Regions from separate parts of the Homo sapiens genome. Here all the other regions are linked to region 1. The links come from fine-mapping of genetic effects on gene expression. A gene starts in region 1. Each other region holds a variant in brackets. All regions are shown on one strand. Distances are between the middles of the regions.

Region 1 (5,099 bases):
ACTGGTTGTCCCAGAGCACAACTGTGAGGCTGCTCCAGGATGAAGGACAACCCATTCCTATTCTGCCAGCATCAGGGTCCTCCTGGGACCCCTCAGAGAGGGGGCCCAGACCAAGGAGACCCCATGCAGCTAGTCCTGGTTTGAGGGAGAGAGGCTCAGAACTCATCTGGTTCCAGACCTGCCTCTGCCCCCAGATCACAGAGTGGCCTTGGGCAAGTCATTTAATGCCATTTGGCCTCAGTTTCCCTATCTGTTAAATGGCTACTAGAATAAGATGACCTCTGAGGTCCTCGCTTGTTCAAAGATTTTATGATGATCATAAAAATAATAACTTTTATTACCCTACATTTATAGGGCTCGTTACAAAATTTCGAAGTGCTTTTATGTAAATTACCTCGTAAAATCCTCCCCTCAGCCCTGTGAGTGAGAGCTGATTATTTTCATCTCTTTGATCTTGGCTCTCTGGATTGCCTGGCGCACGAGGCGGCGTGGGGAGTGGGTTGCAGCCCCCACAGTCCGGACCCCTAGGGTGGGTCTGGCCCCCTCCTGAGCCTGCGAGAGTGAAGGCCTAGCCCTGCGAGTCCTGGAGCTCGGTCCAGGCTTCGTCTCCCTCCGCCCCCAGCAGGCGCCGCTCGGACACCGCTGACACCACTGTCTGGATCGGCGAACCCCAAAGTCGAGGAACCGCCGGTGCAGCCGCCCTTCACCTCGGGGACCTGCCCGGGGACCAGGGGGACGTCTGGGCATCCACCCTCAGGAAGCGGGCAGCGCAGATCACACCTCGGATCCTTCGTAGCACTCCCAAACCCAAAGCCACCAGCCCTTCTCCACCGCGAGGCTGCTCCCGGCAGCCACAGGTCACAGCAGCGAGCGGCTGCACAGACTATCGAGCGAACAGCGGAGGCTGGAGGCAGGGGCGGGGATGCTGGGTGTGGGTGGATGGGTAGGAGGGGAGGCCTCAGACCCTCCCTGTGCACCACCCCCCGGTGGGTCCGCGGCTGCACCCGCGACCTTGGCTCCAGGCCCGCGCAGCGAAGCACCCCCAGCCCCAGCGGCTGGCCGAGCAGCCAGGGGCGGGCTCCCGTACGTGGCCAAGCCGGGCAATTGCTCTCCCCGGGCGAGCAACCCGGCATCCAGCGCTCGCCCACCCCACTCCCTCGCCCCGGGGAGGCCATCGCCTGCCCGGCAGGGGCCCTGCCCTTCCCCGCAGACACCGAGCAGGGAACCAGGAGCTCGGTCTGGGAAGCTCAGCGTAGCCGAGCGTGGAGCCCGGCACGGAATGTCGCTCCCCTCCCAAGCCGGCGCAGGGCAGCCACAGCAGACGGGGGGAGGGGAGCGCCCCTCCCACTTCACCTTGGGCTCTTCTCTGCCTCCCCAGGTCGTCCCCACCTTCCCCCATTCGGAAGCCACAAGTCTCGGAGAGACTGCCCCACCCCCAAAAGAGCCCCAAAACTTGGGAGATGGGGTGTCTTGAAACTCCCTGGAGAGGGCTCTGCCACGGCTAAGCCGGGTGTCCAGGAGGTCACCGTGAGGCCGGCCAGCTCCCGCCGCCCCTCCCCCGCCCACTCTCCCAGCCCCCTCCCTGTCCCCACGTGGGGGTCCCTCCTTACCTTGGGCTCTGGCCGCGCGGATCTGATGCAGAGCTAGCAGTGTCCAGATCAAAAGCCCCCACATGGTGACCAGCCTGGAGAGGGGTCCTCGGGGTCTCCCTTCCCTCCGCCCTGTTTTATAATCCTGGTGGGGTCCGATACCCCGTGGCTTAGTCCCAGGAAACAGTCAGTCTACGCGGCTCCGTGCCCCGGGGTGTAATATGCCCGGGAGGGGCAGCGCTTGGCTACCCCAACCCTTCCTCCTCTTCTGTACTAGTCCGAGCCCGGCAGCGCGCCCGGAAGGCGAGGGGCGAGCAGGGAGAAAGAGGCCAGGCCGCCCTCTCGGACTAGGGCGCCTCTCTCCCTTAGCACCCCAACTCCGACTTCTCCCAAACAGGGCGGCCTCTGCGATCCGGCCGGGTCGCCGGCCGAGCTCCGGAATAAATGGACAACTTCAGGAAACTTCCTCCCGTGGCCACGTTGCCCGCCCCCTCCCCGCCCCCTGGTTGGGTTCTCCCGGCCGACGCAGTCACCGCCGTTCCAGGCGCCGGGCCCCCGGGACCCGGCCAGAGCCGAGCGCAGTGGCAGACGCGGGTGCGGGGGTTCTTTTAGGGGCGCCGGTTTCGGGGGACGCGGTGAGCATAGCGGTCCGAATCTCCCTGGAGCTGAAGTTTTCTTCTCTCTAACTTTGCAGGCAGCATCTGGCGGGGCCGAACCACCCCCTCTGGGCTCCACCGCCCTCGCGCCGAATCGGGAGACGCCGGGTCTCCTCCGGGGGCGCTGGGGCCGGGCGCGCCCTCGGCTCCGCGCCCAGCCGGCTAGCAAACTTTGCGGGTCCCGGAGCCGGGCGCGCAGCCCTGAGCGCCCATGTCCGCGCCAGCCGCGGGGCGGCGGGGGAGGGTGCTGGGCTTCGCGACGCGGGCTGTCGCCGGCGCCCGGGCGCAGAGCCTCCTGCCGGCCCGAGGATGGAGACCGGCGGCTCTGCCCTCCGCCGCGCCCCGGCCGGAGCTCTCGGGAAGACGCACGGAGAGCCCGGCGGGCAGCCCCGGCTCCGGGGACGCGGCGCCCCTTCGGACGCCCGGCGATCGCCGACCTCCCGGGCCGGAGGAGCAACGGCCGCCCCAGCGCCTCGGCCGCCGCTGCCGCTCGCCGAGCCCGCCGCCCTCCGCTTCCCGGGCTCGGCGTCCAGAGAGCCGCTCCTGCCTGCGCCGAGCCGGAGCTGCGGGGGCAGCGTGAGCCGGGGACGAGCGCGGCGGAGGCGGAGACGCGGAGAGGGGGGCCGAGCGCTACCCCGTGGCCGCGACTGGAGAGCAGCCTGCGCGCCGGGAGGGGCGGCGGCGGCGGCGGCGGCCCCGAGCCAGGCCCGGGAGCGAGCCCCGCAGAAATACAATCCGACTGCGCGGCCGCGGGCGCCCAGCGGCTCTGGGACCCGCAGGGGGGCAGCAGTGCCAACCTTCTGCCGCGCCGGGAGAGATGCGCGCGAGCCCCTCCGCTCTCTGCCCAGCCTTTCCTTCCAGCCTCGCTCGCGCCCCTGTCTCAAAGGCCTCATAGGACTCCCAGAGTCTCCTATAGTCGGGAGCCCCCAGCCCCCTTCCGGACATGGAGTGATTGGTGGGGAGGCGGCGGTTGGGAAAAGGGGGTCGGTCAACCGATTGATTCCAGTTTCCCCTTCCCAAGTCAGGCTCTCCAAGGTCTGGAAATGCTCAGGGCGGAGGGGGAGACATCGGGAGGCCTGGGACCTGCAGAAGCCTGAGAAAGTGAAGTTGGTGCCAAGGAGCGTGCGTTCTTTGTTTCTTCTTTTTTCCTTCGGAGCCCAGCTTGTAAAGAGTAGAAGAACCGGACATTGGTGGAGGAATTCAAACAAGAGAGCCCGGAGGCGTCCTCTGCTGTGGCCCAGAGCTAGCGCCTACTCCACGAAGCTCAGCTGGGGTTAACAGGCTTCTGTTAAAATTTCCCGGGCACTGGGAAAATTTCAGGTGCCTTCGCCTCGGTGGACTCCTTTCCCTGCTAACAAAATTATTAAAAATAAGATTTTGCAACTGCGTTGGCATAAGGAAAAGTATATTAATATTGCATATTAAAACATGTTCTTCAGCCTAAAGCTTTACTTATTTTTTTCTGATTTTAAAAGAAATCAAAACATTTTCATGGGCCCCAAAAGACTATGGTCCCTGGCACTGGGCCTGCGGTGCTTAATGCAGAAGTCTACCCTGCGTGTCTGATATTTCTTCTGGGAAATAAAGAGCTAGTGAGACCCTCCATCTTTTGCCACAGTGCTTCTCTCTACTCTCTCTCGTGGTCCTACTTAGTCTGGTCCCCCACGGCTGCCTAGTCTTTCTGGTCCTTGAAGTCTAGGACTGTCACTCACTGATTGCCAACTCTTTCCCAGGCGCACTCCCACCCCAAGGACACCCCTTGTGATTGCTGTGGAATAGGCATAGCCACCGCAAATATATCGTTACTTATATATTCTCCTTTCACCTGCTTTGGAAGAAGAACCGTAAGCATTTATTAAAAATGTCTGAGAAGCTGGCCTGCCTTGCCTACAGCGTTTCAATCACCTAATTCAAACAACATTTCCCCCTGGCAACCTGCTCCATCCCCAGCTGAAGCCCCTCTGGCTGGCTGATTTGTAAATGCGAGGGCTTTGGGGGCAGGCAGCCTAGATGTGACCAACTCTCCTTCTCCTTGGTGGCCATGTCACTCCCACCTGCTTAATGATGCCCAGATGTGACAGTGCACACCCCCTACATACTCTGAATGTCCCCAGCTGTGAGCTCAGGCCCTTCCCAGACTGTCAGGAAGAGCTCTGGTCTTTAGGGTGCTGTTACTCTGTTCGCTCACAGAGGGGGCCTGAGAGCCGTATTTGCGGGGAACCTCTCCTTCTGTCTCTTAGGCCAGATAGCAGAAAGGGCTGCATCTCCGTTTACATCACAGAGGGTAGGAGTTCGCGTGGACATAAAAGTCTGAAACCTGGGTGGATTCCACCCTGATCGTGCCCAATTCCCAGAAGTCCAGCAGGCAGGAATGTGAGCTCCACGTGCCTAGGGCCTCGAATAGCATCGTTCCCTTATTAAGAGGAGGCCTCTTGCACAACCGTTTGGAGCCCTACAAACCTTCTTCTGGGAGTTTCATCCCTAACACGTGAGACGGGGACCCATCAGGGACTGGTGTGAGGAAGGAGGTTTCCTTTTCTTTGTTGGAAGTCTCCAGGCATGCCTGCCAGTTAGAGAGGAAAGGACACCACTCCTGCAGCTCCTACAGCAGATTTCGGTCTCCATCCATCTAGGATGAAGAAGAAGATTTGAGCTCTTTTTGGCCTCAACCCATACACATACACACACAGGAAGGAACTCTCTGATTTTGCCTCTTGCCAGAGTTTTGCTGGCCCAGGAGAAGGCTGAGCTGGGAGTCTGCCACTTTGAGAGGGGCTCGTTACTGGGAAAGTCACTTGCAGACACCATGAGCTCATTCTTGCCACCAGCGGTATAATTAGAGGTTGCATCGGTA
Region 2 (5,099 bases), 93 kb before region 1:
GGAGAGAGGAGTGGGAAGAGAGGAGGCAATTGCCTCCTCCTGGCAGCCCTCCTTGATTGTTGAGCAGCTGCCAGCCACCTGGGCTGCTCACTGTTGAAGAAAGCTTCCCATCACTTCCTCATGACTCAAAGCTCTGCAGGTACTCTTTGCCCTTTAGCTTGTACCTGATTAATTAATTTTCAGTTAAGTGATTTGATCCGTCATCCATTCACCCAAAAACCATTCCTGGAGCACCTGGCATGTGCTGGGAATCGCAAACAAAGATTCAGCCCTTGCCCTCAAGTTGCTCATAGACCAACTGAAGAGGAAGTCTTGGTAAGGTGTCATGCTATGGGGGAAGTAGATGGGGCTGGATGGGTCAGGGAAGGCTTCCCGGAAGAGGGAGTGTCTAAGTCAAGCCCTGAAGGATGGATGGGAGTCAGCCAAGCAGAGATGGGGGCAAGTTTTAGGCGAGGTGAACACACAAACAGCAACCCGGTCAGACAGAATGCGGCAGGTCCCATCAGCCACAGTGTGTGGGAGAGGGGATGGGGGGCAGAGACAAGGAGAGGGGTGAGAGCGGGGCTCAAGATGTGAGCGAGGTGGCATGATGAGAGGCACTGAAGGGTTTCAGCAGCAACAGATCAGATTTCTGTAACAGAAAGATCACTCTGGCTGCAACGTAGTGGGGAACGCCAAGTGGGACCTGGTCATAACCAGGTGGAGGGGTGGTGGTGACCAGAATCTGGAATGAGACTGTGGGTGAGGACCGCCGGGGGTGCATAGAGGCAGATGCATGCAAGACACTAATGCACCCCTCCCGCTGCTCTGCACTGTGTCCCGGGGGCACTGAGCCCCGGGTTTCTCCCTCTGGTTGCACCAGCCAGGCCCCCTCCCTACCTGCCCCTTTCCTGCATGGCAGGTCTAGTGCTCCTGACTGTTTCCAGGTCAGGTTGAGCTGGCCTGGCTTGGAAATATGCTTGATGGAGTTCTAAGCCTGCTGCAGCAGGGGGCCAGGGGTCAGGGAGGTGGCAGACTGCCAAGGTAGGAGCCTCTGGTTCTCCCCGGCCTCCTAGCGACTCTGCTCTAGGGTTAACGGTTCTGAAATATATGCTGCTTAATGCTACGTCCCCAGGAAGGGACCCCTAACCTGCTAGCCCTTTGTCCCGCTGGGAAAATAGCTCAATTACTGCCAAAATGAGAAGCTGTCCTGGGGTGGATGAAGTAGCACCAAAGGATAATTAGAATGGGCTGGACATGAGCAGCCACTTGTTTGGAAAGGTGGAGGGCCACGACACAGAGACCCTGGGTGGCGGGGGAGTCAGGGTGGCGGTGGAAGGGCAGGAGGGACCCAAGGAAGCCACAGAGCTTTTGACCGTCTCCCATTCCCCCACCCCTACCCTGCAGCTTCCTGCCACACGTCTCTTCCTGGGATGTTAAGGAGGCTGGCATGGAGTCAGAGTCCACTCAAGAAAGCAGAAACTACTGGCTATACTCGCACAGAAGGAATTTGCTACAGGGAACTGGTTGCAGGTGATAATCAGCGAGAAGCCCAGCGGGGGACAGTGAGGTAACCCAGAGATCGGTGACACAAGAGGCCTCTACCATCCCTAGGCCGGAGGGGTCCAGGGAGGAAGTGAGGTTGCTGGATCCCAGGGCGAGTCACCCGTCCACAGGGAGCTGGAGTCATGAGCCAAACGCAGCTGCTCATGGAAGCCAGTGGAGGCAGGAGGGAAGGGAGAGACCCCAGCTTCTCTCCCTTGCCTACCTCCTGTCTCCTGTCAGTGCTTCCCACTGGCCAAGCCTAACCTGAAGCCAGCTGACCGGGGAGCCTGGGAAGCCAGGAAGACAGCCACCTGTGATACAGGACAGAGCAGAGGCAGGACAAGGAAAGGACCTGAGAGGTCACAGCCCACGAAGGACACAGTGGGTCGAGGTGGTAGCCTGAAGCCACAAAGCACGCTAGCCGGGGACTCCACGCGCACCTTGTCTTCCCTCCCACACTGTTGGGTGATGGCGGCCGGCTCCCCATCAGCTTCTGGTGCCTTCGTGATAAATGCCCACACGCTCCCACCCCAGCCCGATTCATCAAGCTCCCCGTGGCACGTTGCATGGCCAGAGACCTTGCCCACCAGGAGCTTAATCTCCCAGACAAAGAACAGAAACGCGGCCTGGGCCAGAGACATATAACATGTTGCCGGGAGTCACTGACGGTCTAAGTGAGCCCAGGAGCCTCGCAGCTCCTGCCAGGAATGGGGAGGGGGCGGAGCGGCCGAGGCCTTCGGTTTTCTCCCTCCTTCCATCTCTGGTGTCAGGGGTGACTTGGAAAGGATACCCCAAGTTTCTCTAGGCCATTCTTCCACCTTTTTCTCAACCTAACCCCTCCTGGACCAAGCAGGCTCTAATACAGCTGTTCCTTTCTCCTTCCCTCCCCTCCTTCCTTAACATGGATTAAAAGCCTCCAACACACTGTTTGCTATGGACGCTGTGGATGCCATAGCGAGCAAGACAGGCCTGGTCCCTGCCCTCACGGTGCTTACACACGCAGAGCTTCTGCAACCTTCCCTAGTTGTCCCCCTAAGGGCAGGGGGACCTTCAGACCACCCCACCCCGCTGCTTTCCAAACTCAGCTTCCAAGAGGAAGCTGAGACCCAGTCCATCTGGAGACCCAACTCCAGGCTTCCCTTCTGTCTCCAACCCCTTTTGAGTAAAAAGAGGGTCAGAGAGGAGAGGGCACTAGATTCAGGGGGCTGTGATTGGCTGCCACCAGACTGATAGATGGGTGAAGAGACCAACCAAGACTGTGGGACAGCCAGGGTGGCAAGGCAACCTAGAGTCAGGCAGGTGCCGCTGCAGTCCCCACCGCCTGCCCCCCACCCCTCGGCCAGCCTGTCCCCCCTGTCTGGGGCCCAGCTCTAAATCTCTCTGACATAAAATATTGTCGGAGAGCCACAGCACAGAGAGATTAAAAAACAATAAAGAGAAAGCGAAACTCTCGTCTATAATTACCAGCCTCTAGCCGGCAGCAGCAGAAACGCACTAAAATTTTAATAGGAACCACTGCATTTAATTTAACGACACATTTTTTCAATTACCAGAATAATTGT[C/T]TTATTCATAAAATGAGTTTCAATAAAGAGGGTAATTTTCCTTTGTTTTTATTATTCATTTGTGAAACATATTTGAGATAGAACCCCCTCATGTTAAGGCAGCTTGGCGAGGACGCATGACATCTGTGTCACGCATTGAAACTGGAGTGGCGCAGGGGACCCTCCTGAGGGGGTGGCCGTCCACATTGCCAGCTGATGGCCGAGCGGTCAGTGGTCGAGGCGCAGGTCTGAGTGTACTCGGCCGGAGTACCCATCATGAGCCACTTAGATTAGCTTCTCGGCACTCAAGAAGTACGTACGAGCATCACGCCCACTTGAGCTATGAGAAACTGAGGCATAAATGGGTTAAGTCACTTGGCAGGATACGGGGGAACAGGATTTGAGCCCGGCCAGGCTGACTGCAGAGCTTGAGGACGGTGCTACTACCCTGCCAATGGACCCCGCTGTAGGCTGCTTCCCAGACGAAGTTCCCTAAGCGACTTCATCTTTGAACCAACTCATTTGCACTTCTCGCTCTGGCTTCGTTTACACTGCACTCTAAGCCCTCTCCTTGGCAAGTTCTCAACTCGAGAGCCCTTGCCCTGAGCCTCTGGCTGGCGCTCAGAGATGGGATGAACTGTTTGGAGAGGAGCCGTAGAGGAGAGGCTCAGACCCGTTTGGGTTCTGGGTTCCTCGAGCACCCTAATCCCAACCCTTTGGGATTGGCTGCAGCTCCCAGGTAGGGCAGACGGCTGCAGCGTCACGCTGCTTCTCTGGATGGATGAATGCAAAGGCAGAGGCTTCTGTGGGGGCTGGGAGGGAAGGGCCAGAGGGAGCTCTTGGCCCCACTCTGGGCATGGAGGTGGCCTTGAGCATGGAAGCACCTTCTGGGGTGTGTGTGTGTTCTGAATACCATCAGAGGCAAGAGGCAGAGATGGGGCAGGACAGGCCACGGGGGGCCAGTGGTGGGAGCCCAAGGCTGCCTCCAGTAGGGAAATTGATATTGATAGACCATTCTCACTGTCAAGGGCTTTGAGCCAGGACTTACTGCCTATTTAATACCAGGGTCTCCATAGTGACCCTGGAAGGTGGATGTTATTATCCCCTTGGTAAAGATGACAAAACTGAGGCCTCAAGAGATCAAACAAGTCCTGCCCAAAGTCACTGGGCCAGTGAGCAGCCCAGTGGTGAGTCACCCCCAAGCCCTGCCGGCTGCACCTATTCCTATGATGGTGTTTCCTGCAGGGAGCTGCCCTCTCAGAAGCCAGGATAGCACAAGGAAGGACAGGGGGGGACAGAGAGGTTTGAGGCCCAGGGTCACCCCTGAGCCACTACCTGGCCACAGCCTCCATCCCACCTGCAATCTCCTTCCTCGGGCCTACACCTCCTGCAGGTGAATAGCACCACCCCCAAACCCCCACCCTTGTTACAGCATAGCCTTCACCCAGGGATGCCAGTCACCCCCTTCCTGAGGAGGTGCTGGCAGAGGGGGCATGACCAGCTCCAGCCTGAGCCTCAGATTCCCTTCAGGCTTTTTGGGCATAAGATTGGATGCAGGAGTGGTGGTTTCCCTACTCCCTCCCTAGGTATAAATCTGGCCTGCAGAAGACCTCTTCAAGGGGAGATACCTAGCAGCCCCAACACATCCCCCTGAAGCCCTGGCTTCTTCCCATTGAGGAGAGGACAGGAGCATGGAGGGAGGGTTACTAGGGGAGCTGGGGCCCTGAGGCTCACAGGGAGAGGGGTTTTATGTCCTCCAGGGGGAGCTGGGACCACCTATTCCTAACCCTGGAGCAGATCCCTTGTCCTCATCAACCCATGGTCTCTGCCCCCTTTCAGGTCTTCTACTTCTTCCAGGAGGCCCCCTGATGAGGACAGGGGGCAAGTCATCCTCCCCTTTGGAAGCCCAGTGCTTTGCGCAATGCCAGGCACACAGGGGCAGCTCATCAATCCATTATGTAAAGGCACCTAGATGAAGCAGAACCACTTCCACACTGTTATGAGCCAAACTTCCTGCCCCCAAAATTCATCTGT
Region 3 (5,099 bases), 78 kb after region 1:
GGCACACAAGGAGGAAGAAGGCAGCGATGTGGCTGTCACCCGCCGTAGCCACCTGCTGGTATGGCTGACACCAGCCCTGGGCCCCGAGACAACAGCCACTGCAGGCCTTGAGGCCCAGCGCTGGTGCTGAATCTCCTGTCTCCTGTGCACAGGACAGGAAGGTAACCTTGGGCTCTGAGCTAGAATGTGCTGTGGCTTGCGCTAGACGGGGCCTGGTGGCTTCCATGGTCTCCTGTTGACTCCACCTGCCAGTGTCTGCATCTCTTTGCCTGAGGGCTTTTTCTAAAGCTGTAAAAGTTTGCTTTGTCAGAAGAGGGGAAATGAATACCCTCCCCCAGAGCAGCCTACTCAGCTGGTGGCTGAGGGGATTGGGTGTATAAATACCCCAGCTACCTTGCCCTCAGCAGGGAGGACTTGGAGGCATCTGTTCTACAGGTCACCAGAGGACCCCGGAGGACTAAGCTCCAGCTGCCAGCGTGGGTGCTGGCTTGATCCCCTGCTCCTCCTCCTCCTCCCCTGCTGCCTGTCCTCCCTGTGTCCCCTCCCGCCTCCCTGACTGTGGTCTTGTATCTCCTAAAGGTGTACTGGATCCTTCTCCCAGGACCTGCTTTTGGGTGAACCTGAACTAAGACCAGTGACAGCAAAGGTCTATGGGTTTAGGGATTGTTTTTAGGGCAGTTCAAACAGGTACCAAGAACCTGTGGGACAAATACATTAAAAGTGGAACTGCTCAATAGTTTTACTTGGAATCAGCTTTGAACGTGCCTCAAATTCGGAAAAAGTGCACAAAATCGGCCCTTTATAAGAAGCAACCCCACAGTTGCTGAAGGGAAGGGTTCCTCTGTCTCTTTCTTCTGCCTCCATACAGGAACATTTTAAGCCATTTAAACCTCCATATTCCAGAGTCAGAGATTTGGGCTGAACCTAGGTAGCTATTTTGACATCATATAGGACTACACTGAGACAAAATCTAAGGGAAAAGTGGAGCAGTCGGTCCGGAGGCTTAGCTTCAGCGTGGTTTGTGGACATGGTTCATTCATTGGCTGTTGTCACTGGCGAAGTGGAACTTCTGGGGTTCGGATTCTTTAACTTCATAATTCAGCCAGTGGGATTGTTTTCTGGGTAATCATGACATCAGCCAAGGTTCAGTCATAGAATCAGGAAGGTCAATTTTTTTTTTTTTTTTTGAGACAGAGTCTTGCTCTGTTGCCCAGGCTGGAGTGCAATGGCATGATCTTGGCTCACTGCAATCTTCGCCTCCTGGGTTCAAGTGATTCTCCTGCCTCGGCCTCCTGAGTAGCTGGGATTACAGGCATGCACCACCACACCTGGCTAATTTTTTGTATTTTTAGTAGAGATGGGGTTTCACCATGTTGGTCAGGCTGGTCTCAAACTCCTGATCTCGTGATCTGCCCACCTCAGCCTCCCAAAGTGCTAGGATTACAGGCATGAGCCACCGTGCCTGGCCTTTTTTTATTTTTTTTAATTATTTTTATATATTTTTTGAGACAGAGTCTCACTCTGTTGCCCAGGCTGGAGTGCAGTGACGTGATCTCGGCTCACTGCAACCTCCACTTCTCAGGTTCAAGTGACTCTCCTGCCTTAGCCTCCCGAGTAGCTGGGAATACAGGTGCCCGCCACCCCGCCCGGCTAATTTTTTGTATTTTTAGTAGAGACGGAGTTTCACCATGTTGGCCAGGCTGGTCTTGATCTCCTGACCTCGTGATCTACCCCACTTGGCCTCCCAAAGTGCTGGGATTACAGGCGTGAACCACTGTGCCCAGCCAGGAAGGTCAATCTTTTTGTGACAACATGGGAGTCACACCACAGTGACTTAATCGCCACCTGTACCTCACCCACTCCCCAAAAACTCACCCTGTACTCATGTTCCTGGATGAACTAGCTTTGCAAATATCAGCCGTGTGTTTCCATCATGAAAACCCATCCTCTGCATCCTTTATGGAGCTGACCTGAAATGGCCAACAGGGAGGACCGGCCCCTTCTGGACCAGCTGAATTTCAAATCAACATGATCTCTCACACACGATCTCTCATCAGCCGCTGGCTGGAAAGACACATGATAAAGGATTCGGCAGAGCTTCTGACACCGCAGGCTTTGCGACCTTGTGAGGCTTGGGAGAGAAGCCTGGTTCTCATTTGAACAGATGGGCCTGTTTGCAAATACTTCCTCTGATACCCTAGAACAGACAACATCCTGTCTGAGGTGGGTGGTTGTGACTGAAGAGACCAAACAGACCTCAAAGAAACACCTGCCACAGAAGTGGCAGCTCTGACTGTGGAGCCAAGAAAGCTTCTGCATTGCTGCCTCTCTGTCTAAGGGTGGAATTCTTTTTATTATTATTATTATACTTTAAGTTCTAGGGTATGTGTGCACAACGTGCACGTTTGTTACATAGGTATACATGGGCCATGTTGGTTTGCCGCACACATTCACTCATCATTTACATTAGGCATTCCTTAAGGGTGGAATTCTTTTAATAAGCAGGCCACGGTAAGGTTCTGAGAGTAAGAGGGAGAGGCAGCCTCCCTGCTGTCCTGCCTGAGAAGCTGGAGGCTGAGGTCTGATGGAGGAAGACAGGAAGAAGAGAGGGGCAGGATGTCCATGTATCTTTCTGGATGTATCACAGCTGTGCCTGGTACCAGGCAGGGGCAGACCATTTCTTCAAGGGCTGATGCTATTCTGAGAAGGTATCTTGCCCACCCAAGCTATCTCTTGGTCCCAGACTTGTCCAATTTTCTTCCCAATGACAGGCAGCCAACAATGTGCCCTCTTTGCAGTGAGACTGTACTGCAGTTGGAGGGAGAGCCCTGTAGGCAATGCAGAGTGTTCCCAGGGTCATTCCCAAACGTTCATTCAAGCA[G/T]GGCACTAGGCCAAGGCTCTGCAGCGAGAGACACCCTGAGACTTCTGATACCCTCTGGGACGAGACTGACAGATACCAGTCAAGGATTTCACTAATTCATCTCCCGTGGCCCAAGCAGATGTAATTCATGATATTCCTATGTTCAACTGGGACACAGCCTCAGAATCCTTCTTCATACTCCAATACAGCAGGCAGCCACGAATGCCGAGATCCAGAGCTGACACCCAAGATGCAACATGCTTTCCACATCTTCCCTGGGGACTTACAGTTTAAAACTGATTCCCTGACACCAATAACCATGCAGCAGATATGCAGATACCTCGATAAGAAAGGTCTTTGTGATTTATAATAGCAGATATAATCATTCACCCTGCCTAAAAGCTAAGGGTTTTTGCCATACTGTGAGGTTTTGAAGCAGAGTATCACGTGATTCGTGTTCCTGAATTTGACATGGGGAATCCTCATCTGAGTTGAGAAGGATATAGCAATCTTCAGTAGCCACTCCCAGGGGGCCTCTGTCCAGGATACAGGATCTGGACAGAGAACAAAGCAAATAGGACTGATGTCTCCATCCTCGGTAGCATCTCTCCAATCTGCTCCTATCCCTCTCACTCTCCTAAGCTCCCCTCAAGTAGGTGATCAGGTAAATTATCCTCTAAACTAGGAAAGGTACTATTAATGATTACATCACAATAACAGGTAAAATGGGAGGTGTCCCAGGCAAACAGGAATATAGGATCCCCATGCCCACAGGCCCTCTAGTTTTGTATGAGAAGGTGCATCTGTGTGTGCCAGATGTGTGTGTAGGGGTGGGTGTAATTTGGTGGGTGTGCTATGGGGCGCTGAGCAAAAGCAGATCCTTCTCCTGCCTAGGGTTCAGTCCCTTCCTCAGCCCTGTGTCCCCTCTGGCTTCGCCTGCCAAGGCTCTATCAGGTGTGAGAGTACAGAGCGATGGAGCTCCTGGCTGAGCTGATGAGGCTCCCAGGGACTAGAGCAATTAATTAAGCCTCTTCCCAGCTCTCAGCACAAGCCCCGTGCCACTGCCAGAGCCTTTTAATTGCCACTGGAATGGGTAGCTCTTAAAATCAACGTCCTTCCCTTAAAATCAACGTCCTGCTCAGCAGTGCTAGGAGAGGGAGGCTGGAGAGGGCGTGGAGCTGGCCTGTCCAGCAGTCCCCACTTCCCTTCTGGGGCAGGTCCCAGGAAATGCTTCCTTCCAATAGCTTCTTCCCTGCTGTGCCCACTTTGGGATTTTTTGCAGCTATGAGGGTGTTGACAAAATTCAGATAGTCACACATGGGAGAGACTTCTGAGATCTTAGAGCCCAGCCAAAGATCCCTGAGGGAAAGGGGCTTTCTGGACACTCAGGCTTGCTGGGAGGGGAAGGATGTTCCAGCTCTGGTCTTGGCCGATGTCACCATGGATGGACGAGACCTGGATCTAGCTGCTGCAGGCGCTGTGGGGCATGGGACAGAGGGCACACACAGCACTGGCTGTGGAGTCCTGTTGTGAGCATCCCTGTTGAAAGAACTAGGCAGGAGACTCTCAGGACCAAACAGATACAGTCCAAGGAACCTGGAAAATTGCATGAAGAGCCCTGGGCCAGGCCTTCAGGAGCCGGGGCCTAGGGGAATCAGGCTGCCCGGAGCAGCCTCTGTGAGAGCTGCTAGGGATGCAATGACCTTAAAGCTGCCTCTCGACTCTGAGATTCCGGACTGTGATTCTGCGACGGACTCAAACCCAGCATCCAACGCGGAACAATAGCTGTACTCCTGCCCTTCCCGACCCCATGGAGGGAGGCGGTGGCACAGTTCTATCTACACAGCCAATAATGCAAAAATCACCTCATTTGGAATGCATTAGGATTCCAATTTACAACAAATTTCCTTTCCTAAACTAGCTTGGCTTTGCAGACATGTGTCTCTGACAGCAGAAAAAGGGCAGGGTCCCTGCATGCCAGGCCAGAAAGAGGGACCTGGCAAGGAATCCTGAATTTTCAGGTGAAAAATCTGCTTTAGGCAAACTGGGAATGAATGCTGATGTAACTTGGAGTGTATGTGTGTGCGTGTGCATATGCACGTCTGTGATGAAGGGTCTGTGCATATTGCGGGAGGCAGAGACCCTGGAGGCCCTACCCAGTGACAGCAATTGCAGATGATGATGTCTGATAATCATATAATCATATTGATAACAACCATCATCTCCCTCACCCTTGTGG
Region 4 (5,099 bases), 71 kb before region 1:
CTGGTCCTGAGTGGCTGCTGGGACCTTCCCAATGCCTGGGTGAAACTCCAGAGAACGAACTCTGGGCCAGCAGGAGTTTGCTGGGAAGTGGCTGCAGGAGGTGGCTCGGGTTTTTTTTTTTTGAGATGGAGTCTTGATCTGTCACTGAGGCTGGAAGGAGTGCAGTGGTGCGATCTCGGCTCACTGTAATCTCCGCCTCCCAGGTTCAAGCGATTCTCCAGCCTCAGCTTCCCGAGTAACTGGGATTACAGGCGTGAGCCACCATGCCCAGCTCGGGTCTCTTTCTGTCAAGGCAATGAAGAGGCTAAGGAGGGTGACAGAGGAGCCCCCTGAGCCCCAGGCATGGTGGGCTGTGGACCCAACCACCGGCTTCCTGCCTCACTGAGGCACCAGGGCGAAGACACTGATATTCAGTACTAGCAACCCCACAGCCAGTAGATAGTCAAGTTCCCTGCCCTTTCCAATGCCCACAGGACACTCTGGGTCACTCAGGGAGCTCGGTGGCCCACCCAGGCCCAACCCTGAGCCCATCGATCTGGGTCCTGGGGGGAACATGTGGGAGTCCAGCCCGGTGGCCCCCCGGGCGCTCTAAGCAGCCTGTGCCTAATGACCGCAGAAAGCCATTACAGCTCACTTAGCTGTAAACAGCTCTCCACAGCACTCATTAGGGCCGAGGAGCTCCGAGAGCTCTCCTCCTCGGGTGTGGGGCATGTGCCCAGCGGGGGCTACGCCTTCTTACTGGAAACACCGTTTCCCGCCCGGCCTGCCTTCCAGGAAAGGTGAGCCCGGCTGGGGCCCGGCCAGCGCCCTGCCCTCCCCTGCCCTCTCTGACCGGGGTCTGACCCTCCACAGGGGCTCTCTCCTCCCTGGGCATTTCCCAGCCTGCAGGGGCCCAGGGACAGGACAGGCAGAGCCCCAGGTGCCCCCTTGACAACACATGCCGGGCTTTCCATGGCCAACCTCACGGCCCACGGGGAAGGAGGAGCGCCCGCGGGGCCAGCTCCCCTGGGTGGGCCAGCACCCTGGGCATGCCGGGCCAGGCGGGTGCCCACAGAGACTCCCCTCCTCCCTATGATGGGGATGTGCCTGGGAAAGATGGACAGTTCTGGGGCCTAAACTGCAGGCGGACAAGACCTCGGCATTCAGTGCAGGTGTTGTCTTCTACCAAATCAGAGCTGTCCAAATGGTTTTAGATTCGGTCCCCACAAAATCCTGTTGAGGGTCCCAAGAGATATAACAGAGGTAAGGGTGGTTGTCCTCATCTAAGTGGGGGTGAGGGTGGGGTCCACAGCCTGTCTGTTTTGCTGTTTCCCTCCCTCCCCACTTTGTCCTATCCCCTACCTGCCGTGAGGGCTCAGTTATCCCTGTAGAATTCTGGGGTCTGCAGACACAGTTTAGTAACCACTGGCCTGCACCACGCACTGTTTTCTGTGCCTGGAGCGCTCCGACCCCTCTTCCTAGCCAGCTCCCATCCACCCCCACATCCTGATGGCACCCTGTCCCCAGCCCTGCCCTCCCTTCCTCTCATGCCAGCCTCCCTCTTATCACCCAGCTCTTCACCTTCTTAGCATACCCCTACATTTTCCAGTGATATTTCTATTTGTGTAGTTATTTGCTTATCGCCTTCCTATTCCCTGAGCTCTGTAGGGAGGAAGACCATGTCTGTTTTTGTCTCATCTCCAGCATGAGCCCAGTGCTAGGCACACAGCAGGCAGTCCATAAAGATTGACTGACTGACTGAATGAATGAATGGTCTAAGCATATGATGCTCAGCTTGCTGGAGAAGGGGCATCAACATCTTCCTATCATTGACCCCTTCTGTGTCCTCAGCCCTCATGACTGATGTGTCTTCCATCTACTCCTCCACCCCAATCTGGTCAGTATCTACTTGTCCTTTATCTTTCATCTGAGATACTTCCTCCCGGGGAGCCTCCCAGCGCCGTCAAACACCCAGCATGCTCACTTGTAATGGCGCCTTCTTATCTCTTTCTTCCTGGACCAGGAAGCAGAGCACAGGTGTCTAGTGTCAACACATGCCAAGGTGTCCAGTGCAGGTGTGCCACATGAAGGAACGGGTGACTGCCCCATGGCCCTGCTACTATGGGGCAACACCACCTCCTTGGAGGCTGATGACCTGCTCATATAGGATGGGGCCTCTCCATCCTCCACTTCCTCACAATCAGCACCCCCAGACACCTTCCCAATGTCTGAGCAAAACTCTGCAGAGAACACACTCTGGGCCAGCAGGCGGTCGTTGGGCAATGGAAGTGGGTGCACGAGGTGGCTCGGGTCTCTCTTTGGGTTGAGACAATGATGAGTCTAAGGAGGGTGAGTGAGGAGCCTCAGAGCTCCAGCGTGGTGGGCTGGGGACCCAACCATCAGCTTCCTGCCTCACTGCTGCACCAGGGAAAGGACACTGGTACCTGGCACTAGCAGGCCCACAGCCAGTAGATAGGTCACTCTGCACCCCCTTCCCAACCCAGTTCCCCAGAGGCTTCTCCATCTCAGGAATGGTCACCTCTACCCTTCACCCAGCTGCTAGGACCCCAAACCTTGGAGTCGTCATTCAGTCCATCAGCT[C/T]GGCACATCCTGCTGGCTCTACCCGCCAAACGCACCTTGAATCTAACTGCTGCTCACCACCCATGTTGCCATCACCCTGGGCAGCACCACCACCAGCTCTGGCCTGGACCACAGCCTCCTCCCAGGCATGCCTGCTCCCCTCCGCTCCCTGAGCCTTAGCCCCACATGGCAGCCAGAGGGATTGATTTAATGCATAAATTGGATCATGCCACTACCTGGCTCAAAGCCTCCAGTGACTGCCACTCACACCCAGTCAAATCCAGAGTCCAGACTGCAACCTGCAAAGGCCTGTGTGGATGGGCCCCTGGCTCTCCTGTGCTCCAGCCTCCTCTCCACACATGCCCAACCCTGCCCTTTATCCGGGCCTTGCTCTCAGGGGCCCTGGGCTCCGCCGTCTCTGCCCCCTTCCAAATGTCACCTCCCCGACCATGAGGACCACTCCAGTGCCACTCCCCAGACCTGCTGGCTTCTTCCTGGCCTTCGTGGGCCCTGTCCCTTCCTGACACTACCGCTCACATCTATGCGCTTCCTCACTGTCTGCCTGACCTCAGGAATGGAAGCTCTGCCCACATCTATGCATTTCCTCACTGTTTGCCCGACCCTCAGGAATGGAAGCTCCATGAAGGCAAGGACTTTTGTCTGTGTTGTTTGGCTCCTGTCCCTTCAGCCCCTAGAACATTGCCTAATACACCAATAAATATTTATCACATGAATATTTATGTAATATCTATTAATTTAGGGGTAGGTGACACAAGTATTTGTTACATGAATGGATACTTTTAAATCCATTGTTGATTAATTGATCAGTTCCCCTTGGTTAAATTTGTTTATAAAAGAACATCAGATCCAACCCTGATCACAGCTGACATCACGTGCATGCACATGTGTACGTGCACACACAAGCACACATGCACACATACACGCCTCGCTGATCAGCCTTATTAGTTTTTTCTCTCCCTTTTTCCCAGTAGCTGCAACTTCAGGAGACTACCTTGTGTGTGAGTGCAGGAGATGGGGGTGGATCTTTCCCTCAAGGCCAGCCCTCCCCACCAGGCTCAGCTATCAGCCAGGAGACAAGGTCCTCTGTGGGCACACCATCACCTCTACCTCCCCTTCGGAACCAAGGCAAGCTCTAAATGCCTTGCCCTTGCTTCCTTCCTAAACATTTAATGCCATACTGGCCTTCTCCACCTCTCTAGACACTTTCTACCACCCTGGCTTATGCTAGAAGATCAGATGCTCCTGGTAATAATGACCCAAGTACAACTTAACCAAGAGGGTGAGTCTTGAGTCTTGAGAAGTATGAGTCTCTGGTGGAAACCCAGTGGAACACCCTAGAGGGTGCTGGGTTTGGAGGCTATACCAACAGACCAAGAGTTCAAGTCTTGCACCTTAGTAGAGGCCAGCCCTAGGACTTAGGGAAGCCATCTGTCCTCTCTGCTCAAGGTTTCAGTGACTGGTTGGCTAAAGGACTGCTCGTATAGTCTCAGACAATTAACCTTCCTTGAGCCCCTGTTAGTGGGAGGCTGGGCTCTGCCTGGGTTTGGGAATCTGGAAGATGGGCATATCCCCTGGGAATCAAACAGTCCTGGCTCTGCTGCTTCCCCTTGGGGTGATCCTGGGCAGGCTGCTGAAGCTCCCTGGGCTCCAGGCTCCTCAATGGGGCGAATGACACCTGCATCGGGAAGATCAAAGCCACTGCTGAGTTCTAATTTGACCTGGGCCATCCTGTGACAACTCTTGTAATCAAAGAAACCCTGGGTTCTCCCTCATGGACTCCAAATCTGCCCCAATCACTCCAGGGCTCTCAGAAGGAGCCACTCTGAACCAGCACTTCATTCTTTCACTCGTTCATTCACCAGGTATTTCCAGAACGCCTGCCAGTTCCAGGCATCATGTGAGGCTGTGAAAAGTGGCATAGCAATGTGGACGAGAGCTTGGATTCTGAGGTAGACTCATTTGGGGCTGAAGCACTATCTCTTGCTAGCCATGACCTGGGGGCAAAACACGTAATCTCTCCGTGCCAGTCTGTACTATATCTGCAGAATAGAGCAGTCATCACAGTTATCTCACCAGGTGGTGATCAGGATTAAACGAGTTAATATGTGTAAAGCATGTAGGATTGCGTCTGGCACTTGGCAAGTAAGATATGATTGTTGTCTTTGTAATTATGGAATTAAAGTTGAATAGACAATCTTTGTGCTCAAGGAGCTCAGCTTAGCGTGGGAGACAGAGCATACACAGACAACGGCAACGCAGCAGCGCTAGGGCTAGGAGAGGAAGACGAACAAAAGCTGGGGCTGTGGATTCTCACGAAGGGGCAGGGCCTGCTCTTGAGGGGCTCACAGTCTCAAGGGGGAGAGGAGGTATAAAAAGGGAGAGCAAAGTCAACCAAAATTCCACACCGTCTGCAGCCCAATACATGCAGCACTGAGCTGGGGGCCGTGGGGGATGACTTCAGCAAAAGACACGCCTGTGGTGGGATGAGGAAGTTTGCACCAAGGACAGAGGCAGGGCAA
Region 5 (5,099 bases), 300 kb before region 1:
TGAGATTTACTTGTGTGCTAAGTATATACATTTTTTTTTTTTGTACAAAACTTGGGCTCTTCTTTTGAAAATGAAGTTGCCGTCCAGCCAGGCTGCAGTGTTAAAGTTCCATCAAACAGGCCTTTAAATCTCCAGTCTTTGTGTGCATCCTGCCCTCTGCCTGGTGCCCCCTTCTCCTGCACCCTGGGCCCTCTACGGGAGAGCCAGCCCCTCTCTCCTCTAGCCCATCACCCCCAGCTGAATTATAGCCTTTCTCACATCACATCATATGTGTTTGTTTATAAGTCAAACTGACGCTTTGTTTATTGCCATATCACAGGAAAACGACTGGGCAGATTTCTGCCAATTTTGGAGAGTGGGTTTTGGGTGGTCTGTCTCAGAATATAAACCAGGTGGCGTATGCAAAACCCACTCTCCAAAGACCTGGGGGAAGGGGTGTCCTTGAAAAGAGAGGCAGTCATTTTTCCTGGCGGCTGAAACCGAGGGGCCCTGGCCTGTGCAGCTGCTGATCCTCAGGGACGTACCCTTGCACAAACTGTCACAGGCAGGAGAACTACCAGTGGCATCCCCATCAGCCCCCACTTGAAGGTCGCAATGGTGGGGGCTCCGCATTGCAGATGCTGATTGGTAGCCGAGCTGCTTCTCACGTGGCTGAGTGGCAGCAGCACTGACTTATTTAGGAGCCTCATAAGGACCACAGTGGGGCCAGCACAGTGGTTCACACCTGTAATCCCAGCACTTTGGGAGGCTGAGGCGGGGGAACACTTGAGGTCAGGCATTTGAGACCAGCCTGGCCAACATAGTGAAACCCCATCTCTACTAAAATACAAAAATTAGTGAGGGGTGGTGGCACATGCCTGTAATCCCAGCTACTCTGGAGGCTGAGGCACGAGAATCACTTGAACCCAGGAGGCAGAGGTCTCAGTAAGTGGAGATTGCGCCACTGCACTCCAGAGCAAGACCCTGGCTTAACAACAAAAAAACTCATAACTTGGATCACGTGGGTTTTGTCCCCCACAATAAGTTCCTGGGTAAGCCATGCTAAGTTGGGGGTCTCTGTCCCTGCCAGCTTTGAGCTAGGGAGTTAGGTCCAGCCTTCTCAGCTCTGCCAAGCCCATCAGTAACCCTGGAGCTGAACAAAACAGCAGTGAGTGGGAGGCCCTCAGCCCACGGGGCCCACAGCGTGATCCCAGGCTTCCTGGCACCTCCTGCACAGCCAGCAGCCCAGCTCCCTGCTGGCACCTCTTCCTTCACTTCCTCTCCCAGGCCTGGGCAGAAAGGTCCAGGGCGTGGGATGCAGTGGCCTTTCGTGGCCCTTTCCTCAATAACCACTGGGCTTGGCTGAGGCAGAGGGTGAGGGTGGGAAGCTGTAAGGCTGCATGGTTGGAATACACACAGCCCCTTCCCCACACAGCCTGGGACAGTGTCCCCACGTGACCCACCTAATGGCCGCTCTCTGAAGCTCTGTGTCTTCCAGAGGCACCGACCCCCTCTTCATATAAAAGCTGACATTTACGGAATGGTTGCCGTGTGCCTGGCTCTACACTGAGTTCACCAGTGTCTAACTCAGCAGATCCTCCCCACAGCCTCGGACAGAGCCTAGTATCACCCCTGCCTGTTCCACAGATGGGGAAACTGAGGCTTAGAAAGGTTACTTGGCACACCCAGGACATCCCAGGTCACGAGCAGCAAAGCTAGGATTCACACTCAGGTCCAAACCTCCAAAGCTTAATGTCTCCCTGGTCTACACTGCTTCTCATCCTCAGGGCTCCAGGGCACCCAGCCCTTTGTTTCTGAAGCTGTTTTGATGCGTGAGTAGTGAAGCTGAGCATTTTTCCAGGTCTCTGGCCTGGAATGCAGGGCTGTGTGTCAACCTTCTCCCCAGAGTCTCCCTCTCCGCACCTTCAGCGTGCTCTCTTGCAGGACAGCCCTAATGAGTAACTAAGCCTGTGGGGTGACCCCTGAACGTAGAGAGGGCCGTCTTCTTCGGGGTACCCCCTATGATCAAGGTTCCCGGGACCCCATTGGCACTGGCCGCAAACTTTGAGCAGAACTTGGGAGGGGACAGATGGCCCATATATGACTTCAGGGTGGTTTCTTGGGCCCCTTAATATTTGCTGCCCCTTGAAGGAAAGGAAGAAAGCCCATCTA[C/T]GTTCACTGCCCCACTCTGGGAGGCGCTGCTCCCTGCCCCCTGCAGGACACCTGGCCCTCCTGCCCTCACCTGAGAGTCGGAGATTTCTGAGGGCTTCTCCGTCAGGCTGCTGCTCTCTGCAGGGATGAGGTCGTTGTATTTGGTGACATCCTCATCCGAGTAGTGCAGGCTGCCTGGGCTGGGCCTGGGGGGAGACCTGGAGAGAGCGGGGGAGTGGGGCCGAGAGGTGCACTCACTCAGAGCGGCCTCCCCTGGCCTAGGGAGACCACAGTGGGGGCCTGGGGAACACGGATCCCTGCCACCCTGTGCTCCTCCTCCTTCCTGGGTCTGCCTTCCAGGGGCCCGGGCCTGGGAGGTAGGAATCTGGAGGAGGACAAAGAGGGAAAAATGGGGTGCCCGGCTAATGCTGTCATGGCAACATGCAGGGTGAATGTAGGGGGGATGTCACCGTGGCTGGGTTCAGGACCCCACATCCTGGGGCTGCTTTGGTGCAAACGGGATTTTTGTGTACACACAGTGGCTTTGGGGGCACACAGGGGCCTGGATGTGTGTGCACTGTGGGTAGGAGAGGCTGGGAAGGGCAGGGGAAGGTGAGGCCACGTGTGAAATGCCCCCTTGTTACATGTAGTAGGGCCCCGGAGCCAGCCTGGCGGGGCTGCTATGGCCATGCTGGGCCTGGCTGGGCCTGCTGTGGGGGCCTCAAACAGCTCTTTCTTTGGAAGGCTGGATTTGGCAGAGGATAAGAGCTCGGCTTTGGGAGCTCCTCCCTCCATCCTCTAGATGAACACACACATAGCTTCGTCCCTCTAAGACAGAGACAGAGGGAAGCTTTGTGAGCTCCTGAGAGAGGCTGGACTCCTCCTGACTGCCGCCTCCAATGAGCTGGGAATGCCAATAGGGCTGAGGCTGGAGACAGGAGCCCTCTGGCCCAGTCTTTCTTGAGCTCAGGGGAACAGAAAACCGCCACACATCAGGGGAGGGTCAGGTGGGCCCCAGCAGCTGCTCCTGCCCTTGGAAATGGGCAGCCCGATGGCCACAGGGAGTAGGGCCTAGGAGGGGGCTGGGGTTAGAAAGAAGTCAGAAGAAAATAGGAGCTGTGCTTGCACCACGAGCCTTGTCCTGTCCTCATGGGCTGCTTTCAGATGCTGCCCTTTGAGGCTGATGGGGATAGGAGGTTGTCCTTTAATAGGTATAAATAAGGACCTGGGGGAGAGGGTTTCCCAAATGGGGAGGAAGACAGGAGGGCATAGCGATAATGCGGGTGCTCAGGCGTCCTTCGCTAAGGTGTTTTTGCTCGGTCTGCGTTGGCTGGGCCTGTCTTGCCTTTGGGGCCAGTGACGATCTGCAGGGCTGTTTCCCTGGCAGTTGGCTCCGAACATCAGTAGGTTGGTTTGAAAAATTTTGCCAGTTATTTGCATTCTACTGTCACTGTCAGGAACTCTTAGTAGCTACCTCCTTGTAAATTTCTCCCCAGTGCGCCCTCACCCCCAGGCTGTGATTGGGCATGGTGGGGACTGGGACCCTAGTTGTCCTGCTTGGGCCCCACTGTGTCTTTCTGCTGATCGTTCCCAGCCCTGGGGCTTGAATGGTGTTTCCCAGGACAAGGTATGGCCAGGTGGGCACTCCCTGCTCTATGGCCTTCCCCAGCATTCTCCCCACCTGGGCACTGCTGGGCCTGGCCCCCAACCCACGCAGAGGGCCCAGTACCTGGTGTACAGGCCGTTCTTTCGGCAGAAAGAGTTCTTGACGGAGAGCCGCCTGTTGTTGAGTTCCAGGGCAGGGAAGCTGCTTTCATCCAAGCTCATCATCTCGCTGTGGCCTAGGGCTCCAGACTTGGCACTGTTCCCTGAAGTCGGCGGGAGATTGACACCCTTTAGACTGTGTGGCCTCCCCTCTCCCATACCACTCTCCACCTGGCTGGGTTATCCCCTCTTTCTCTTGGTAGAGTTGAGACCAAAATAAGAGATTGAGATTGTGTGTAGAAACCCTAGGCTGCCCCACCCACCAGAGCAGGTGCGCTGCCAGGAGCCAGGAGAGGGACCTGATCACCCCTGTTCTGGCCAAAAAGGAGATACATAAAACTCAAGTCCAGCCAGCATGGCTGGTGCCAGCTCACTCACCCGAGTCTGTCTTCTTGGCGTACTTCTTGCTCTGGCCCCGGATGATGAGCACGAAGACCAGAAGCAGGATGAAGATGAGGCCGACCAGGGCAATGACCACCAAGAACCACCACTCCTCATAGAAGGGGTTGGCTTTCTGGGCTGGAGCACAGATAGTCAGGTATATAGGGTGCTCAGCCCCCTCCTCCCTCCAAATCTCCTGCTCCAGTTGGGACCCTACTAACTGCTACAATCTATGGGAAGGCAGGGTCTGTACCCTCCGAATGAGGCAGAACCTCTGTAAGGACAGTTTCACCTCAAGTATCCGCTCTGATCAGTCGGTAAAGGGCTGCCTGGAGGGCTGATGTCAGATGAGTTCTGAGATGGCTACCTGGCTCAATAGGAAAGAGTGCTAAGATTGATTAGTGATGTCTGCCAGGGACATAGGAGGGGAGAGTGGCAGTGTGTTAGCTACTTTTTCCCCTTTTTTTTTTTTTTGAGACGGAGTTTCACTCTTATTTCCCAGGCTGGAGTGCAATGGCATGATCTTGACTCACTGCAACCTCCACTTCCCGGGTTCAAGCAATTCTCCTGCCTCAGCCTTCCAAGTAACTGGGATTACAGGTACCTGCCACCACACCCGGCTAATCTTTGTATTTTTAGTAGACACGGGGTTTCACCATGTTGGCCAGGCTGGTCTCTAACTCCTGACCTCAGGTGATCCACCTGCCTCGGCCTCCCAAAGTGTTGGGATTACAGACGTGAGCCACCGTTCCCGGCCCCTTTTCTTTTTTTCTTTTGTACTTGTCTAGGAGCTATCTTGATAAGCATACCTAAATCTGTGTGGG

Which allele goes with the higher level. Positions count from the first base shown, and alleles are read on the strand shown. Sizes are in standard deviations (SD) of each study's normalised expression. Not every link is listed here.
As copies of T replace C in region 5, the expression in cerebellar hemisphere of the gene that starts at base 2,031 in region 1 goes down (moderate effect, 0.50 SD a copy in GTEx).

Evidence for each region. PIP is the estimated chance that this variant, and not a neighbour inherited with it, causes the effect.
Region 2: its variant is the best candidate, but not a certain one, in a credible set for the expression of SDK2 in whole blood (INTERVAL, PIP 0.67).
Region 3: its variant is the best candidate, but not a certain one, in a credible set for the expression of SDK2 in whole blood (INTERVAL, PIP 0.88).
Region 4: its variant is the best candidate, but not a certain one, in a credible set for the expression of SDK2 in whole blood (TOPMed, PIP 0.59).
Region 5: its variant is the best candidate, but not a certain one, in a credible set for the expression of SDK2 in cerebellar hemisphere (GTEx, PIP 0.77).

Annotation. Positions count from the first base shown.
Region 1 is chr17:73,642,415-73,647,513 of GRCh38, forward strand. It overlaps SDK2 (sidekick cell adhesion molecule 2), which reads right to left and starts at 2,031. Exons shown (of 45, transcript NM_001144952.2): 1 at 1,611-2,031. The coding sequence starts at 1,674. LOC124904054 (a long non-coding RNA gene) reads left to right here and starts at 3,060. Exons shown (of 2, transcript XR_007065893.1): 1 at 3,060-3,280; 2 at 3,407-3,690.
Region 2 is chr17:73,549,222-73,554,320 of GRCh38, forward strand. The region is part of intron 1 of SDK2 (sidekick cell adhesion molecule 2); the gene reads right to left. Among named protein-coding and RNA genes, the nearest start is that of SDK2-AS1, 38 kb to the left of the region's middle. RefSeq lists an enhancer at 1-101. The variant C/T (reference allele first, on the strand shown) is at 3,087.
Region 3 is chr17:73,720,212-73,725,310 of GRCh38, forward strand. No RefSeq gene overlaps it. Among named protein-coding and RNA genes, the nearest start is that of LINC02092, 64 kb to the right of the region's middle. The variant G/T (reference allele first, on the strand shown) is at 2,882.
Region 4 is chr17:73,570,961-73,576,059 of GRCh38, forward strand. The region is part of intron 1 of SDK2 (sidekick cell adhesion molecule 2); the gene reads right to left. Among named protein-coding and RNA genes, the nearest start is that of SDK2-AS1, 60 kb to the left of the region's middle. The variant C/T (reference allele first, on the strand shown) is at 2,581.
Region 5 is chr17:73,346,378-73,351,476 of GRCh38, forward strand. It overlaps SDK2 (sidekick cell adhesion molecule 2), which reads right to left. Exons shown (of 45, transcript NM_001144952.2): 42 at 4,273-4,413; 43 at 3,860-3,998; 44 at 2,222-2,348. Among named protein-coding and RNA genes, the nearest start is that of CDC42EP4, 37 kb to the left of the region's middle. RefSeq lists an enhancer at 945-1,794. The variant C/T (reference allele first, on the strand shown) is at 2,152.